Linked DNA regions of Homo sapiens: all the other regions are linked to region 1. The links come from fine-mapping of genetic effects on gene expression. A gene starts in region 1. Each other region holds a variant in brackets. All regions are shown on one strand. Distances are between the middles of the regions. Region 1 holds the start of TBILA (TGF-beta induced lncRNA). Region 2 overlaps TMPRSS7 (transmembrane serine protease 7). Region 3 holds the start of C3orf52 (chromosome 3 open reading frame 52).

Evidence for each region. PIP is the estimated chance that this variant, and not a neighbour inherited with it, causes the effect.
Region 2: its variant is fine-mapped to the expression of TBILA in whole blood (TOPMed, PIP above 0.99).
Region 3: its variant is fine-mapped to the expression of TBILA in whole blood (TOPMed, PIP above 0.99). The same link has a PIP of 0.9 or more in T cells and blood mononuclear cells.

The regions. Positions count from the first base shown.
Region 1 is chr3:112,130,281-112,136,380 of GRCh38, reverse strand. TBILA (TGF-beta induced lncRNA) reads right to left here and starts at 2,958. Exons shown (of 1, transcript NR_157393.1): 1 at 1,022-2,958. GCSAM (germinal center associated signaling and motility) reads left to right here and starts at 3,133. Exons shown (of 6, transcript NM_152785.5): 1 at 3,133-3,289; 2 at 5,868-5,936. The coding sequence starts at 3,261. It also overlaps a transcript of C3orf52 not described here. RefSeq lists enhancers at 2,808-2,987, 3,468-3,527.
Region 2 is chr3:112,072,195-112,078,294 of GRCh38, reverse strand. TMPRSS7 (transmembrane serine protease 7) reads right to left here. Exons shown (of 18, transcript NM_001395507.1): 14 at 3,883-3,999; 15 at 2,803-2,974; 16 at 1,151-1,419. Among named protein-coding and RNA genes, the nearest start is that of C3orf52, 11 kb to the left of the region's middle. The variant C/T (reference allele first, on the strand shown) is at 3,185.
Region 3 is chr3:112,083,369-112,089,468 of GRCh38, reverse strand. It overlaps C3orf52 (chromosome 3 open reading frame 52), which reads right to left and starts at 3,080. Exons shown (of 6, transcript NM_024616.3): 1 at 2,924-3,080. The coding sequence starts at 3,061. RefSeq lists silencers at 3,166-3,215, 3,236-3,285, 3,336-3,385 and an enhancer at 2,902-3,418. The variant C/A (reference allele first, on the strand shown) is at 3,196.

The DNA.
Region 1 (6,100 bases):
AGAAGAGAAAGAAAACACTTTTATTTCTGAATATTCAACCAGAATGTAATGCACACCACAGGCAATCCCCTAAAGAGATTACTAAAACAGAAAGAAATCTTCCCCTTTTATATGCCAAGAAGATATCCTCCACTGCACACATTTTCTCAAGACAAACAATGACTAGTATTCACATAAGAGGACTTGACAGCACCATTTGTCACATAGCGTTTATCTGAAATTATTTTTGTAATATATTTGCTAATTGCCCTTAAAAACTAATTTCTCATTTCTTTTTGGTTGGAGGTAGATTTGCAATTTGGAGTCAGGTGTCAACTGAAGTTAGACTCCAGAAAATTGTATTCTGGAATACTTGAGCATGGAGACTGCACATGGACATTAGGGTGTGTGCTCTGAGATAAACGAAAGCTACAGTGAGAGAACATAACCAATCCCAAAGATAATTTCAAAGAACAATGACAGCAAAGGTTAGGTGGGAGTAGTATTTGACAATGCTTATTTGATATTGTCTCTCAGAGCTGCAAACTAGATTATACAAGTCATTAGCGTCAGATAGCTTTAAAGTTGTGACCTTCCTTTACATGAATTTTCTAGCCAGTTTCCTATCCTTTGCAAGAGGTAACAAAACATGAAACCCTAGAATGTGTGAGTTCAGGCATTAGGTATATAATAAGGAGGCTCTCTGTCCAGGGCTGCTTTCTGTCTTGCAGGGGCTAGTGAGTCTTGTGTGTTTTTATTTTATTCTCACATTTGTGTTTTTTTAGAAAAGTGAATGATCAATAATGGCTTATCTTTTATAATAAAATCTTCCATTTTTAATAAGGTGCTCCTGGAAATCCCTCACAGAGCCAAAAGGAAGTTTGGAGAGCAGCCATAAGGATAAGAATGATGTGAGATGAATCTGGGGTTGCACAGCTAGTACCCTAGTTTCTCTGAAATTGTTTCTTCTAAGCCCACTCCCCATCCTTCTCCTGCCTGTTTTAGATATGACCTTTACATTACTCAAGGACAAGCAATAAAATATTTTGCACTTTGTTTTATTTCTTTCAAGGAACTTCACAAGAGCAGTCCTGTATCTGCTTTTCTTACCATTGAACCTACAGTGCCCAGCACATAGTAGGCACTCGACACATACTTGTTAAAGGAATGAACAAACAGATGAGTGACCAAACTGGAAACAACCATCAAATACAAGGATAATACAAAAATCCATGATTCCTGTCCCGAGATTTCTTTCTTTTTTAACCTTTTGTCTGTTGAGATTCATTTATGTGCAGTGAAGTGCACCCTTATTAGTATACAGTTCTGTGAATTATGAGAAATGCATACAGTCATGTGGGCACTAACACAATCAAGATAAAGAACAACAACAAAAAATTTCCTCCTGTGCTTTGAAAGTCAACACCTCCCCCACCTTTTGCTCCTGGCAACACTAATATGTTTTCTGTTCCTGTGGTTTCACCTTATCTCTAATGTCACAGAAGGTAGGCTTTAAGTCTGGTCTCTTTCACTTAGTGTAATGCATTTGAGATTGATCCAAGTTATTGCATGTATTAATAGTCCACTCCTTTTCAATGATGGTCAGGATTCTGTTGTGTGGATGTAATATAACACAGAGCTTATTTAGCAATTCACTCAATGAAGATCAGTTGGGCTATTTCCAGGGTATTTCGGCTATTATGAGTAAAGCACATATAAAAATTTGTACACACAGTCTTAGAGGACATAAGTTTCACTTGGCTAAATGCCTAGGAGTGAAATTGCCAGGTTGTACAGTAACCCTATGTTCAATTTTATAAGAAATTGCCATACTTCTGAGATGGGAGAGTTCCCTTGACCCCTTCTCGGGACTTGCGACAGGGGTGTGGCCTACTTACTTGGCCACCACCATGCTCAAACTCTCTGTGGGAGCGGGAGCACGCAGGCAAGCGGGTGCCAGGGCTTCGATGAGCACTTTTGGGCTCCAGCCCAACAGCAGCATTTAGGGATGTGTTACAATTCATGCTCTTTTAGCAGTTGCCATCCGTGGACAGCTAAGTGTTAACCCACTCAATGGAGAGTCAGGGTGGCAGCCTTTTACACCCTGCCCTGTTGGTACCCAGGTTCTTGTTCAGCATCCAGGAAGAATCAGGTTGCATGAATGGTTTGAAAGTTGATGGATGTGGACGATTTTATTAAATGGTGGAAGTGGCTCTCAGTGGAAGGGGAGCTGCAAAGGGGATGGTGCAGGAAGAAAGTGACCTTTCCCTGAAGTCTGCTGTCTCTGGCCGGGCTCCTCCCTGAAGTCATGCCACCTGAAGTTAAGCCACATCTCTGACACTCAGTTGCTTCTTCTCCTCTTGATGTTCAGCCGCTTGTCTGTCTGCCAGCTGAGGTCTGGGGTTTATATGGGCACGGGATAGGGGGGCTGGACAGGCTAAAGAGTAACATTTGGGCAGGATAACAGGGATAACTGTTCTCATTTAGGGCTTCGGTTTCAAGGCTTGAGGGTGGGACCTTTGCCAGTGAACCACCCTCTTCTACCCAGTAAAGCCCTGCCTTCTGTCCTTATCACTTCTTTCCAAAAAGGCTGTCATTTTGCATTCTCATCAGCAATGCATGAGACTTCCAGTTGCTTTGCATACCTTGCCATACTTGATATTGTCAGGGTTTTATAGCCATTGTAATAAGTATGTAAAAGTGTTCCATTGTGGATTTGATTTACACTTCCCTAATAACTACAATGTTTAGCATCTTTTAATGTTCATCTGTATAGTTCCTTTGGTGAAATGTCTGTTCAAATATTTTGCCCATTTTGTTACTGGGTGTTTGTTTTCAGATTTGAGAGTTGTTGATACTATATTTTCTACAGGTCTGTGGCTTGACTGTTTTAACCTCCTTCTGACTTTTCTAAGAAGACAACGTGATTTATAAACGTAAATATCTGTAGTGGAAAAACTCCCATGGCCCATCTGTAATTTCAGACCTGGGATTCCCCAGAGGTTCGAAGCTCTCATTGACGGGTAGTTGCTGGTTATGGCCAACAGCCAGGTTGGTTCAGGCACTGACATGTTAGGACATTCTGCACATGCGTGCCTCTAACACTCCTCCCCCAGCCTCTTCCTTCCCTCTGCAGAGACACCCTTCTCCTTTCTGCTGTCTCTGCACGGGTGGCCAGAGCCACACAGCCCTTTCTTTAAGTCAGGAGTTGCCCTGTCAGAGCACAAGGCAAGAAGGAAGTGGTAAAGGGACGGAGGGGAAGCCCTGAGAGGACTGAGAGGATGGGAAATTCTCTGCTGAGAGAAAACAGGTAAGTCTAGACTCCCTGTGGGAGAGCAGAGGAGATGGGACAGGACAATACAGCAAGGAAGAGAAAAAGAAAGCTAGTATACAGTTAGCACACTAAGTTGGGGTAGAAAGTAGTTGGGTAAGGAAACTGCCAAGCCTTCAGTGCCTACTCTGTGCCAGATACCACATTAAATTTCCCATAGGTTTTGCCTTCTCCCAAGAATCATGGTGAGCAGCTGATGGAGAATAGCTGAAAGGTGGAAAGACTTTACCAAGGAAGGTCTATATAATAGGTTACCACCTAAGAAATGAAACAACTTTCTGAAAGCCCGGGAAGGAGATGCTCTCCTGAGCTCCTCATGCTCCACAAGGAGGTCAAAATCACCACCCTCTTTCAGCCACTATTTTAAGTTTGAAATAAACAGCAAGCTTCCTGCCACCTTGAGTCTTCCTTTGATGTGCACTCCCTGCAAGCAGGTAAGCAGAGGTCATCTAGATTAAATAGGCACAGAACTCAGATTTACTTTCTGGACCTCAGCCTCTTTATTTTAAGTAGAAATAATAATACAATATCTACCTTAGAGAGTTCTAGTGTGTATTGTGCTAGCATAGTGCCTGACATAAAGTAGGGTTCAAAATTAGAAGATATTTTCTGCTTTCTTTTTCTGACCATCATCTTCCTTAATATCAAAGCCGTGCCACCAAAATAGTGCCACCACAGACAAGGTAATCTCTAGGGTATAAAGTGGGGTGATCTAGAGAGAGTAAGCGAGCCAGAGGGGGTCTTCACAGGGTTATGTTTGGAATCCCTGGTCTCAGTTCATGCTACTGGAGAGTGGAACACAGGAAAAAATGGTAGCCCACTTTTGACCACTTGCCGAAAAGAGGATTGGTGGTCCTGTGGAATATCTCATGTCCCTTCCTAAGAATCATGTTGTCTGAGACTTCTCTACCCTGGGTTGTCACAGCCCCTTGTCAATCTTCTACTCTAGCATTGTTCTAACAATTATATAAATTACTATTTTTATTACTAGATATGAGATGCTCAAATGTAGTGATTGTTTCTTATTTATCTTTGAATTCCTGGTTCCTGGCATTGTTTCTGGCATATCACGTGCACTGAATAAGTGCAAAAAAACTTTAAAAAAATTTTTTTACTTTAAAATTTTGTTTTATGTAAGAAAAAAAACCTTTTTCCAAGGTGCACACATCTTATGCTATTTGGACTTCTTATGGTTTTTTATTTATTTTAAAGAAAATTCGATTTTAAATCTAGAAAGCTTTTTGGTTTCTGCCATTGCATTCATGCTTAAAATTCTTTGCTCTTCCTAAGATAAGACAAATCAACTCACATAAGTTTTGATTTTGTTATTTTACATTTGGCAACATATATTCAATATATGGTGTCAGATGTAAATTTTTTTCCAAATAGTTGATCAGTTTGCCCAACATCTTTATTTCTATGATGATTTAAAAGGTCTCCCTTGAACCAAGTGCAGTGGCATGCACCTGTAGTCCCAGCTACTCAGGAGGCTGAGGCAGGAGGATTGCTTGAGCCCAGGAGTTTGAGGGCAGCCTGAACAACATAGCAAGACCCAGTCTTAAAAATAAATTCATTAAAATAATTAAATAAAATGTTTCCGTTAACGTATTCAAAAGTCTTGTATATATTGGTATCTAATTTTCATTGTCACCCCAACACCCAGTTATCATCTAGTCAGCATACCCCCCCAACCGTGTCTCTCCAGATCAAATAAGCTAAGAAGTCAGGGAAATTTTGCACAGAATAGAATGGCACTCATCCCTTCATGAGAGGAGCTCAGTCTCAGAGGAAGAGACCTGCCAGCAGCAAACCCAGCTTTTCCCCCTTAGTGGCTGTGGATCCTCAGACCAGTTGCCTAGCATTTTGGGCCTCAGTTTCCTCATTAGTATAAAAAATATAATGATAATATCTATCTTATGGATTTATTCTGGGATTAAATGAAATATAACACACAAAATGATTGGCATATAGTAAGTAGTGTTTAAGTGTTAGTTTCTTTATCCTCATACTCCCAATTCCCAACAAGTGGGAAGATGGGTATACAGAAATCTAACCCAAACAATGAACCAATTTATTTTCTTTATTCAATCCTTTTCTTCTCCTTCTGTCCCTTGTTCTGGGCCTCCATGCTTTCTGTGAAAGATGGTGTGATTTACACAAGACAAAGCCAGTACCTTTCCCCATTACTTGTGCATAGCTCCTGGAACTGCACCAAAGAGATGGTAGCTGAGGACCTCAGGCCTCTCTCTGGACACGGATACTCTCAAGGGTCATGACGAGGATCCCTGGATATTTGGGATCAGATGATTTAGGATCACTTGTTCATGGAGGTTGGAGAACATCAGTGGGCTGTTGCTGTGGCAATGGAGAGCATGTCAGATCAAAGGTAGCTTGCGACATGTGCTTGAGGAAACAGTATTAACATGTGTGAGGGCAACCAGTCAATTTCTGAGTTACACACAAATAGCAGAAATGAGGAAAGTCGGAAAAATTATGAAAAGAAGTGACAGGCCTGTTTAGGAAATACTTAGCCTGTTTCTGATATGTTGAGTTTCAGGCGGCAGCAGAACACTCAAGAGATGCCTTGGAATGTGAGAATGCAAAGCCCCAAACAGAGAACATCCAGGTGAGAGCAAAATCAACCAAACACCCCCCAGACCTTGCCCAAGGAGAACGAAGTATGTCAAGCCCTGGACTTCACATCCCAGTGAGAGAGGGCCCTGTTTAGACCAGTAGCAGTTGCAATAGTAACAAATGTGAAGACAGGACAAAAGATAAAATGCTTGAAAA
Region 2 (6,100 bases), 58 kb after region 1:
GCTAAGATGATTCAGAAAAATAAGTGTACACACACATACCCAGGCTTATAAAGAAAACATCTCATGATAAGTTGGTTGGGCAGATGCTTTTCTCCTGTGATATATGATAATGTAATCAAAGCACTGAGCACAGTAACCTATCAAAGTTACAAGTGTTCACAGTCAGCTGCCTTCCCTCCTTGGGACCCTGAGACTTCAGTGGACCCAAGCTGGTGGTATTACTACTTCAATCACTAAATGAAAGCACTGAGAAGCTGCCTTTGAGAAGTTGCCCACACTTTAGAGTGTCAAAACGAGGCTACAGGGCAAGGTTCAGGAATTACAGATGCTGTACGTGTCCTAAACCCTTGAAAAGGATGGCAAAAGAAGGTGAGGTGATTGAAAGATCAAGGGAAAATATTAGCACTAGCGTTTGGGGATACATTCACAAAGCATTGGATTCTTCCCCTCACTATATATTCAGAATCCCACCTTGAATCCTGGACCATGAAAAACCTTGGCAGGGTAGATGTAGGGACTTCCCTACTATACAGCCTGATCTTTATGCATATTGAAAAGATGTCCTCTCCCGTCAGAGAAATAGCAAAAAGGTATCTCCTCTGGGTGGACCAAATCCAAATCCTGGAGGTATAACCTCCAGGCCTGAGTTTCTGGTCTGGAAACTAAGGGCAGTCTGAAGTTCAGCCCTTACTCTCATCCCTTGGCCAATTGCACAGGCACAGGTCATACCCACATAGTCTCCCAGACTGTTGCCTATGAGTTGACATAGTGGGATGTGCATGTGTGTCCTTCTCTCCTTTATAAATGAATCATTTCTTTGAATGAAAAGGGAGGAATTGCTCCTTCTCTAGTGAATAACATAGCATAACCTTCAGAGTTTGAAAAGGGCCCATGACTATCTAGTCAATCCTGCCTTGCTCATACACAGTCCTCTCCCTCTTTATAAGGTGAGCCCTGCTTCTTTTAAAGCAGGTGGATAGCATCATTAAAAAGAAATAACAGTACCCTCCTCCAATCCAACCTTCCAGAGTTGTCAGGAGGTTCAAAGGAGATCATATACACAAACCCTCTCTGTGAACCCTAAAGCACTACATAAACACCTTATCATCCTCTGCAGGGGAAGGGCATGACCATTCATTCATACACACACCTGCTTCGTGTCTTCGCCCCCAGCCAGTTACCCAGCACTTCTCCCCACTGCGAACTCTCTGACCAGTGGGAGGAATGCATATTGGCTGAATGAGCTGTTTCAGGGTCTCAGGCCAGGCAATACTGAGCTGTAGCAAAGCAATATCATAATCAAAAGTCTGACTGTTATAGTACTCGTGGACCACAATTCTTCTCACCGGGGAGACAAACTTGGCATTCCCCTGAACATACATCCCGAGGTGTGCAGTCCATGGTGTGGGATCTGACAGCCTGATAGAACAGTAATGAAACATAAAGTTAGCAGCTTAAAGAACCACATACAGTTTGCAAACAAGCACTCTAAAGAGTTGAGGGCTGAAAAAGAAGGGCCTGACTTCCAGGGTGTTATTATAGTCACTGGCTTTGTCCGGGGACCATGGCAGAAAGCGTAACTGTGAGCCTCCCTTGTCTCCCTCAAAAAGTCAGAAATGACGTAAGCTGTATTAGGAGTGGCAAGTAATAGAAAATTCACTCAACAGTGTCCTAAGCAAATGCCTGGACATTTTCTTTCCACTAGTATTTCATGAACCACACACAGGTCAAGAATGTTGGTAACTAGAATTAATTTGTTACATTCTTCCTATTCATGCTGACAATGGCATTTGATGGAGAATCCTACTACCAAATTCAAATGATATGAATACCAAGATAGATTAGAAATCAAAGTGCTATAAGCAGGAATTTAATGAAATTCCTTCTGGCAAACTACTGGAAGCCTTAATGATCACTACTCTTACTGCTCAACAATGCCCATTCATAGGGTCACCAACTGCCATTCCCATCAGTCCTTCCAGAATCCCAATCTTGACCTCCATGACCTTGCACAAGTCACAGAAGAACTTGTAATCTCCATGTGAAGCGTCCATCTCCATCAGCATAGCAGTGGGGTAAAGAGTGGGAGTGAAAAAAATGAGGAAGCCCCAAAATTTTGGTCACTAATTTGCTTAGCTGATGTCTCATGAGTGTCAATGGACACCCAAAGAAATATTAGGGTTAATACATTATTTGGAGCAGTTTCACAGCATTAGAGACTCATGATCAAACAGATGTGAAGCTATCTTAATAATTAACACAAATCCTATAATTTTCAGGGAAACAAATATCCAAACTGTGTAACTTCATTGAAATACTAAAAAAAAAATGCAGAATGAGAAGTGAATGATTTTTTTAACCTAAGATTCAGTAGATTCCAATAGTAAGTTTAAATTTTAAGTGAGGTTATTTTCTAAGATGTCCTCTTACCCTTGGCTGGAAGAGCATCTATCCCATCATAATCCCATTGGGGACCTCCATTCTCCAGTCACTCTCCAGTGCCCATTTTTCTCCACATTCTCCACACATTCTCTTAAGTTTGCTCCCTCTGAGTTAAAAGCCCTATCTTATTTTCCCAGCCTTAGTAAAAGCCTATTCATTCTTGATGTTTCCTTTGTGCTTTTTTTATACCAATAATACCTTAAAAAAAAATGTTTGTCACACACGTGGGATCCAAAAAATGAAAGTGCAATTGAATTGATTGAATGTCCCCAACAGGGATCTGCTTCCCACAATTTGAGGGCAGATATATTGTCTATGGCCACAGAGTGCCACTTGAAAGTAAGGACCGTGAGGCCCTACCTGTTTCCATGAAAACAGTGGGCTGCAGAAAGAAGCCACTCCCTGGAGATGACTGAGGCACCACAGTAGGCAGATCCAACAAAGTGGAGGCTGACCTGCCACGGCCAACCCCCCTCCAGGGTGTCTGTGCCTCCGATGATGCGGTGAAGGGCGGAGGAACTCCTGCTGCAGGCTTTGGTGGAGAAAGGGCATGTGATTTAAAGGTAGACTTGGAAGAAAAACTAGAAGTTAAGCCAGTTTTAGTGCTGGCTGGGAACTGACTCACTAGGTAGCAATTTGAAATCTCCTTATCTAGAGGACAGAGAACATGTGAGTCTGTCTGAAACCAATACAAACAAACCACTCCCTCCTTCCTGAAGCATGCCCTGACACAGTCTCTATA[C/T]CACAACGCAGATGAGAGGAGGAGGGGGACCTGCTGTAACAGCTGAACTGACACAAACAGCTGCCTATGGATTTAGATTGTCAGGTAAAGAGGAATGTAAATGAATTGAGAATTTCTTTGAAGTTGTGCTGATGTGACAGAAAGGATTGGGGAAAAGATTTATAAGACCTGGACAAATGAAAACCTACAGGGAAAACTAGTTATCAGAGCAATTGTTTGCTAGTGTAAATAGTATTGGTAAAGATGTATAATTTACATGTTGCCACATGGCCAAGTAGTAGCCACATGACTAATAGGAGCATGTGGGAGATTAGTTATTGAGTCAGGCCTAAAGAAACAGCACTTGATATTGTTAGTAACATAAGGCATTAACAGGTCATCCACTGCGTTCCAGTTTCTATTTATTTTCTCACAAGGTTTTTATTTAAGATCTTCTCCCTTGATTAAAATTATTAAAAAGTGAAAGTTCTCATTTTAAAAATTTAATTCATTAATGCTGTTATCAAGAAGACAGAATCCATTCCAGAGTTTTTATTTCTGAGAAACAATTTCAGACTCAGTTTGTCAATAGTTACTATTCTTGTTTTGGCTATGGCAACCTCGATCAAGGGAAATACACCAAGAAGGGAATGAAAATATAACAAACAGGTAAACTGAAGAGGGAATACAGGAACCCAAAGGAATGAATTTCTACTTACTGCAGCCTTCTTCATCACTTCCATCTGGACAATCCACTGTCCCATCACATTTTGCATTTTGTTTCCTAAAGCAAATATCATTGCCACACTTAAAAGTTCTGTTGTTGCATGGAATACCTAACAATGGACAAAAGAAGAAACAGCTTTCCTTAGCCAGAAACAAACTTGAGTGAATGAGATTTGAATGAATAACTCCAAACCCCATAAAAAATGGTTTAATCACAGGATTGGTATTTGCTGCTCTGGGATAAATGGCAGAGAGAAGAGAAGCAACCTCACAGTGATCCATTTCTTCACCTAAGAAAAGCCATTTGAACGCTGGCAGGCATATTTGTTGAGAATCAATCCAACCACCTCTTCTTTCTCCCATAGCAGGTGAGACATGAAGAAGTGCGACATATCAGTGGCTTTAGGCTGCAGCCTCTTTGCTATTACCTTCTCTTATTCTCCAAGAAAACTTTTGAGCAAAAATCACAGCCATGCTCAGTTATTTTATATCAGTAGGAGGCAAAATGGACAGACTTGTGAATTACAACACATTTGTTCACAACCTTGGAGGTTTGTTTCTTCAAGGGTGAGAGTGGAACGTGTTCCATTCCAGTATTTGGCAAGTTCCTCTACATCAGGTCCTCTGTATCCTACAATCCTGAGCATCATTAAAAGCAAGTAAGCAATAAGAAACTGCCAGTATTACAAAAGAAACTACCATCAGAGTGAACAGGCAACCTACAGAATGGGAGAAAATTTTTGCAATCTACACATCTGACAAAGGGCTAATCTCCAGAATCTACAAAGAACTCAAACAAATTTACAAGAAAAAAACAGACAACCCCATCAAAAAGTGGGCAAAGGATATGAACAGACACTTCTCAAAAGAAGACATTTATGCAGCCAACAGACACATGAAAAAATGCTCATCATCACTGGTCATCAGAGAAATGCAAATCAAAACCACAATGAGATACCGTCTCACCGCAGTTAGAATGGTGATCATTAAAAAGTCTAGAAAAGGCCAGGCGCGTAATTACAGGTGGCTCCTGCCTGTAATCCCAGCACTTTGGGAGGCTGAGGCGGGTGGATTGCCTGAGGTCAGGAGTTCGAGATCAGTGTGGCCAACATGGTGAAACCCCATCTCTACTAAAAATACAAAAAAAATAGCTGGGCATGGTGGTGTGCACCAGTAATCCCAGCTACTCGGGAGGCTGAGGCAGGGGAATTGCTTGAACCCGGGAGGTGGAAGTTGCAGTGAGCCCAGACTGTGCCACTGCACTCCAGCCTGGGCAACAGAGCAAGATTCTGTCTCAAAAAAAAAAAAAAAAAAAAGTCAGGAAACAACAGATGCTGGAGAGGACATGGAGAAATAGGGACACTTTTACACTGTTGGCGGGAGTGTAAATTAGTTCAACCATTGTGCAAGATGGTATGGTGATTCCTCAGGGATCTAGAACTAGAAATACCATTTGACCCAGCAATCCCATTACTGGGTATATACCCAAAGGATTATAAATCTTGCTACTATAAAGACACATGCACACGTATGTCTATTGCAGCACTATTCACAATAGCAAAGATTTGGAACCAACCCAAATGTCCATAAATGATAGACTGGATTAAGCAAATGTGGCACATATGCCTGGCTTGGCAGGTCCCACGTCCACAGAGCCTTGTTCACTGCTAGCGCAGCAGTCTGAGATCCAACTGCCAGGCGGCAGCCTGGCTGAGGGAGGGGCGTCCGCCATTGCTGAGGCTTGAGTAGGTAAACAAAGCAGCCAGGAAGCTCAAACTGGGTGGAGCCCACTGCAGCTCAGCAAGGCCTACTGCCCCTATAGACTCCACCTCTGTGGGCAGGGCATAGCTGAACCAAAGGCAGCAGACAACTTCTGAAGACTTAAACGTTCCACTCTGACAGCTCTAAAGAGAGCAGTGCTTCTCCTGGCATGGCATTTGAGCTCTAAGAACAGACAGACTGCCTCCTCAAGTGGGTCCCTGACCCCTGTGTAGCCTAACTGGGAGACACCTCCCAGTAGGGGCCAAGAGACACCTCATATAGGCGGGTGCCCCTCTGGGACGAAGCTTCCAGAGGAAGGATCAGGCAGCAATATTTGCTGCTCTGCAATATTTGCTGTTCTGCAGCCTCCACTGGTGATACCCAGGAAAACAGCATCTGGAGTAGACCTCTAGCAAACTCCAACAGACCTGCAGCTGAGGGACCTGACTG
Region 3 (6,100 bases), 47 kb after region 1:
CGACCTCCGCCTCCCAGGTTCAAGCGAGTCTCCTGCCTCAGCCTTCCTGAGTAGCTAGGATTACAGGCATGCGCCACCACACCCGGCTAATTTTGTATTTTTTTTAGTAGAGACGGGGTTTCTCCATGTTGGTCAGGCTGGTCTCGAACTCCCAACCTCAGATGATCCACCTGCCTTGGCCTCCCAAAGTGCTGGGATTACAGGCGTGAGCCGCTGTACCCGGCCTGAAATAAATCTTACCTGCCTCAAAACTATCAATTTACTGGTTTGTTATTATTCAAATGATGTTGCCATCTCTTAAAATGCCTCTGGGATTTCTATTTGAAAACTGAGCCCCTGTAATAAGCCATAAAAGAAAACCAGCCTCACTCTATTACCCATAATTTATTTTTCACTTTTGACCCAGCCATATTGCCATGTTTACAGTGACAGCAGGCAAAGTGGAGTTCAGTGGCTTCTATTCCTTTGTCTCAAGTGCCAAGCACACATCAAGAAAGGCAAAGAAGTTCCTTCTACTGCTTTTGTTCACTCTCCCACCACAGCTCTTCCAAGGAAGAAGAGAGATGTCTTCTTCCCAATCATTCCAGAACTGTTCCCGATTCCTCACCCATCCACCTGCAACTCCATCATTCCAGATGTGATACTCAACTCCTAGCTCACTTAAATTGCCTAATTATAAATTACCTAACTTATAGAAATTAGTAATAATTAATAACTTAGGCAACTATAAACAAATGAGTATAAATTATATATAACATATTTAAATTAAATGCTGATAGATAATAGATAGATAGATAGATAGATAGAATAAATCAACAGAAACAGCAAAGGTTTGAGATCTAAAAAACATACGTTCAAGCTTCAGAGGCACCACTGAGTGAACTTGAGGATTTTGGTAACTCCTCTGAGCCTCCCTCAATTTCTTCACTCAGCATCTTCAATCTGACAAACCAGAATACTGACGCCTTCCTCTTAAGTTAGTTGTGATAATTAAATGCATTTATGCATCAAAAGTATTTGTCACAAGACAGTTACTAAACAGGGTTAATGAAAATACATGGACTTCAGCTACATTTCAAAATTAGAAATCTTAATATACAGTTCAAAGAGACCAACACACAAAATTCTTAAGTGTCTGAATCTTTTTAATGAGCCTATATTTATTGACTTTTCTAACTGAAATACACTTCACTTTATTTTATAGGACAAAAGAGAATGATTAACACATTAGATGAGATTAGTTCAAGGCATTCCTTGAACACACTCCAAGTACTCCTGTAGCCCTTCACCTTCACTCCATCCTGTTACTGAGGACAGCTCTCCTATTGGGTGACCTACAAAGCTAACTTACAAAGAAGTCCAGGGTATCTGTATATACCTTACTAACAAGGACGTCATGAGAACATTAAAGAACCATTGCTACAGGGTAGGTGCTAAACAATTACAGAATACTGATAACCCTGCATGGATTTGGCTTGTTCTACCCACCACCTGTTTTCAACAAGGCATTCCCAGGCCTCACAGAAGGCCGAGTAGGCACACATTACCACTACGGGACAGGCTTGCCTCTGGGACACACTTCTTAGTGGCAAAACTGTCACCAGATTTCTGGATTCAGCCCCAAGCTAGGGAGTCTTTAGGGTGTGCGGGTCCATCTAATCTGAGGCAAGTATTTCCAACTCCCATTCCTGGACACCGCCCTGGAGGACTCATACAGCCAGTTCACAGTTGTGGCCACTTGCACTGGTGACCAGACTATCTTTGTTCAACCTTCATTCTTCTGTGGCATTCATATTTTATTCAGAAATAAGTTTCCAAATTACTCTCCAGAGTACCTATAAAAGCAGACTTTGCAATAGTTCCAGGAATCAATGTAGAACAAAAGCAATGCTTTCAACTTTTGAATTTCCTGCTTATCCCTAAAATCAACAGCTGGGCAGCCAAAAAGTTGGGGGTGGAGGAGTGGGGCCTAGAAAGATCAGGTCGGGGCTCTATATGGGGAGTTCTGTGCACCCAGAAAACCTCAAGCCAATCTTAGGAGTTAATCAGAAGGTGGATGGCTGGGAAGTCAAAGCTCTGATGTTTTACAAGTCTTTGATGAGAGTGAATAATGTTCCCATCATTGCTAGGGATGAATCAGAAAAGAGCTTGGCCTAAAAATAGCCAGGGACTTCCTTAGGGATTGAGAGGAGGTAAAAGCAAGGTGGGCGAAGTCTCAACCTTCGAGACAAGAACTTTGAAATTATTTTCTTTCAATTGAGCAGGGCAAGTTCACCTCCCCCGCGCCGACCCCCTAACCCGCCCGCCCCATCTCTACGCCAGCCCTACCCCTTCTCCCCTTCTGACCGCTTTCTCTCCTCTGTGCTCTCCCCTATCTCTCTTCCGGCAGAATCCAATGGCCAGGCTGGGAGAAGGCAGAAAGTGCTTGGCGGATGGTAGGCATGGAAGAAGGCTGGGGGCTGCGGCGAGGTGGGTGGAGGGGAGGGAGAGAAGTGGCAAGGCAGTGAAGGTAAGAGGAGGACAGAAGAGATTCTGAGAGAAGGAGGATACTCAATTTGTCATTCTCATTCTCCCTACTGGAAAAAAGAAAAACTGAATTAAAAGTTACATAACTTTAAAAAACTACTTCCATCTCCGGAATACCTCTCTGAAGACAGCAGCGGCCACACCTCACCACTAGGATTCCTAAAGCGCCTCGGGGGTCAGAGGGGTTGGAGGACCCCAGGGGCTGGGGAGGGGACTGCTCGGGCCGAAAGGTGTCGCGGTGACTCGGCTCCATTCAGAGCACTCGAGCGCGCCCCACCCTCGCTCGGCGCCGTCGACGCCCCGCCTGACTGGAAACCCGAAACTCGCGGGTGCCAGGCCCGGGTCCTACTACTGTCCCGCCGCCGGCAAGTTAGGGCCAGCGCCAAGGGGACCTTACCTCGGCCGGGGGGACCTCCTCGTCCAAAGAAGGGAAGACCTTGTCGGCACCATTGAGAGGCGTGTTCTCTTCTGGCTGCCGCTCGAGCACCGAGAGCTCCAGCTCGTCTACTGGCTGTGAGGGTTGGGCCAGGTCCATGTGCCGGCAGGGAAAGTCTGAGCGGCTCCGCGGGAGGCCACAGCGCCGGCGAGTCGAGCGACCTCCCCGCCTCACACTCCACCCACTGGGCGGGGCGTCGCGGACCTCGGGCGGCGGGAGCGGACCGGAGCGGA[C/A]AGGAGGGGCAACTGTGAGTGGCGGCCACTCCCTGGATCCCGCGGGGTAGAGCACCTGAGGCCGTGCCGGAGTGGGCTCCAGAGCCGAAGGCTGTTTTTCTGATTTGTTCAGGGCGCTGCCTGCTATGCCTTTCCCCGCGCCTGCAGATGCAGACCATCTCCGTTTAGGGGCTGCCTGGGTGCCGGGCTGTGGTAAGGAAAGGGTGGGCCCGGCAGCACCGTCCAACGGAGAAAAGTTTGCGATCTAACCCTACGAACTGTTGGTTGTTGGGGTTTGCCACAGTCCTCGCGGCCTAGCAAAAGTGCATTCATTCAATCAACAAATAACCATGCCTCGTGCCAGCATGGTGCTAGGTTCTGAGTGCATGAAGGTGAATAATATACACCAACACACTTCCTCGCAAGTCCAGAGTCAGGCACAGAGACAGTATTGTGTGGTGCTGGGGACAGCGGACTCTAAAACCAGTGTACCTGGGTTATTCTCCACCCAGAGGGTTCCTCACTGTGAGACCTCGGTCTTCATCTCTCTGTGCCAACGTCCTCATCTGGAAAGTTGGTGTAATATTTGTACCCTCCTAAATGTAGTTGTTACCAGGATTACAAGGGTTGTTGTAAGCAAAGCACTCAGAACAGTGATTGACACAGCAAGCACTCATAAATGACCATTATTATTTATCTTTGAGAGGAGGGGCCTTACACACACACACACACACACACACACACAATGCACGCGCACACACAATCTCCTTGACACCCTATCTGTAGTTCAGAACTTCCGGTTTAGTTAGCATGGAATTATGTTTGTTAAGCACAGCATGGGTTGGGCCAAGGGCCTCAACTCTCAAGCTTCTGTTCCGAATAGTCTTGCTCCTTACTTCTCACCCTCCACGCAACACACACACACACACACACACACACACACACATTAAGACCAGACCATTAACAAGAAGCATATAAATCAGCTCCACTCCAAATATGTTGACTTGAGTCCAAAAGTCTGGCATCTTCAGTACCTGATGTTGAGACACAGCCTAGATATCCTGTCTCCAGCAGTCTGATGCCTGCTACCAGATCCCCTGAACTTTGGATCCATCTGCCTGCTAAGGGGAGTCTGCAGTGACTCATCTGCTGACCTGCACTGACTTCTGCTCCAACAGGTGGATCTTGCAAGAATCAGGCTGCATTCTCAGCTGGGATTTTTGAACAGGTTTTTTAACCAAGGAGCAAGGGTTAAGGGAATCAACAAGGCATGGTGACGTACCCAGGGACTAGCAATAGCGAGAAGCTGTTAACACTCCTAGGCCTAAAAGGGACTGGAGACTGATAAAGAACTAGAGCCATTGAAGGGTGTGGGAATTTGCAGGGAGGTCTTGATAGGATCTGTAGTCACGAAAACATGCAGACCTGACTGGAAGCACTGACACCTCTCAAACTTCTGATTCTCCCCACCCCCATCCTTACCCAGGGTCCAGAAAACTTTTCTCATAGTTCCCTTATTTGATTGCAGAAGTTCATCCTAAATGTGAGATTTTTTTCTCACTTCAGATGGATAGTAGCTATCTCCATGCCTGATTTCTCCATGCACAGATACCTAAAGCCTCCCTCACTCCCCCAGAGAATCAAAAAGCAACTGTTCCTGTCTCAAGCACACCCTAAACCACATCTTCTAATGCCTTTTGAGTACTGTTAAGCAAGGTTTATATACTCTGTAATTAGATTTAAATGCATTTCTATAATTCCATATGCCTAACCCTTGTTCTCATGTTACAGTGGAAGGAATATAAGTTCTGAAGGCAGACAGAACTAGGATCAAATTTAGACTCTCACTATCTGTGTGTTCTTGGGCAAGCTGTTCAATGTCTGCTTGTTTTCTTATAAAATGATTCCTACCTAGCAGAGTCAGGAAGATTAAGGTAAAGAATTTATTCCTGTGCCTGAAAAATGAAAGGATCTCAGTAAATGCTCCATTACATTCCCTGACTGTGTCTTTGTGGCTAATACCCACTCTCCCCCGACCCTTAGCACCCAGCACTAACCCTTGATTCAATATGTTTTCTTTTGATATTGGTTTTTCTTCCTGTGCTGTCCTATTTTCCTGATCACTGACACTTGCTGACACCTCCCATATTACCTGAACTAAATTCTTATTTGCAACCTGTTCCTGTTCCTGTTAACTGCAAATTTCTTAATCTCCAGACAGCTGACCTAGAATGCAGATGAGAGTCCCAACCCTACCTGAAGACTTTCTTCATCCTGCCAGTTTCACTCCACACTAAGGATTCAGAATAAGTTAGGAAGAGGTGTTTCTCCCTAGAGGTACAACCAAGTTTAGATTAAACGAGTCTGATGAAAGTCAAGAATTTGTGAATGAGGAACCAAACTCTACCTAGATTTGTTTTTGTAATTCCTTCAGAATTCATTTACATAAGGGTGGCTTTTTAAATATACTATTATTTCAAAAATAGATTTCTTTAATATAATTTAAAATTATTATTGACTCAATTGCTTTAGTTTGTTTGAAGTGTCTAATTTAAGTAACATTAAAAAATTAAAACATACTTATATTTGCTGACCAATATAAGATTTTTGATGTTGCTTTTTTTTAATAGTACTTGCTCTTCTTTTTAAATCCTTTTTAGAAGCAAATAATTTTCTAAATGGTTATCATATAAACTGAAAAACAAAGTAACATCATCAGAGTGATATCACCAATACACCAAAGGCATCTCATTCCCTTCAAATAGGTCTGTGACTCTGGAATACGCAACAGTTTGTTCCTGTGTGTTGTCAGATGGCAAGCAATACTACTCCGAACGTCAGCAACTGGGTCAGCCACTCAAGCTAATCAAGTAGAAAACAATTGAGAAATGGTTGCTTGTGGTGCTTCACTGTGCTATTTTCAAGG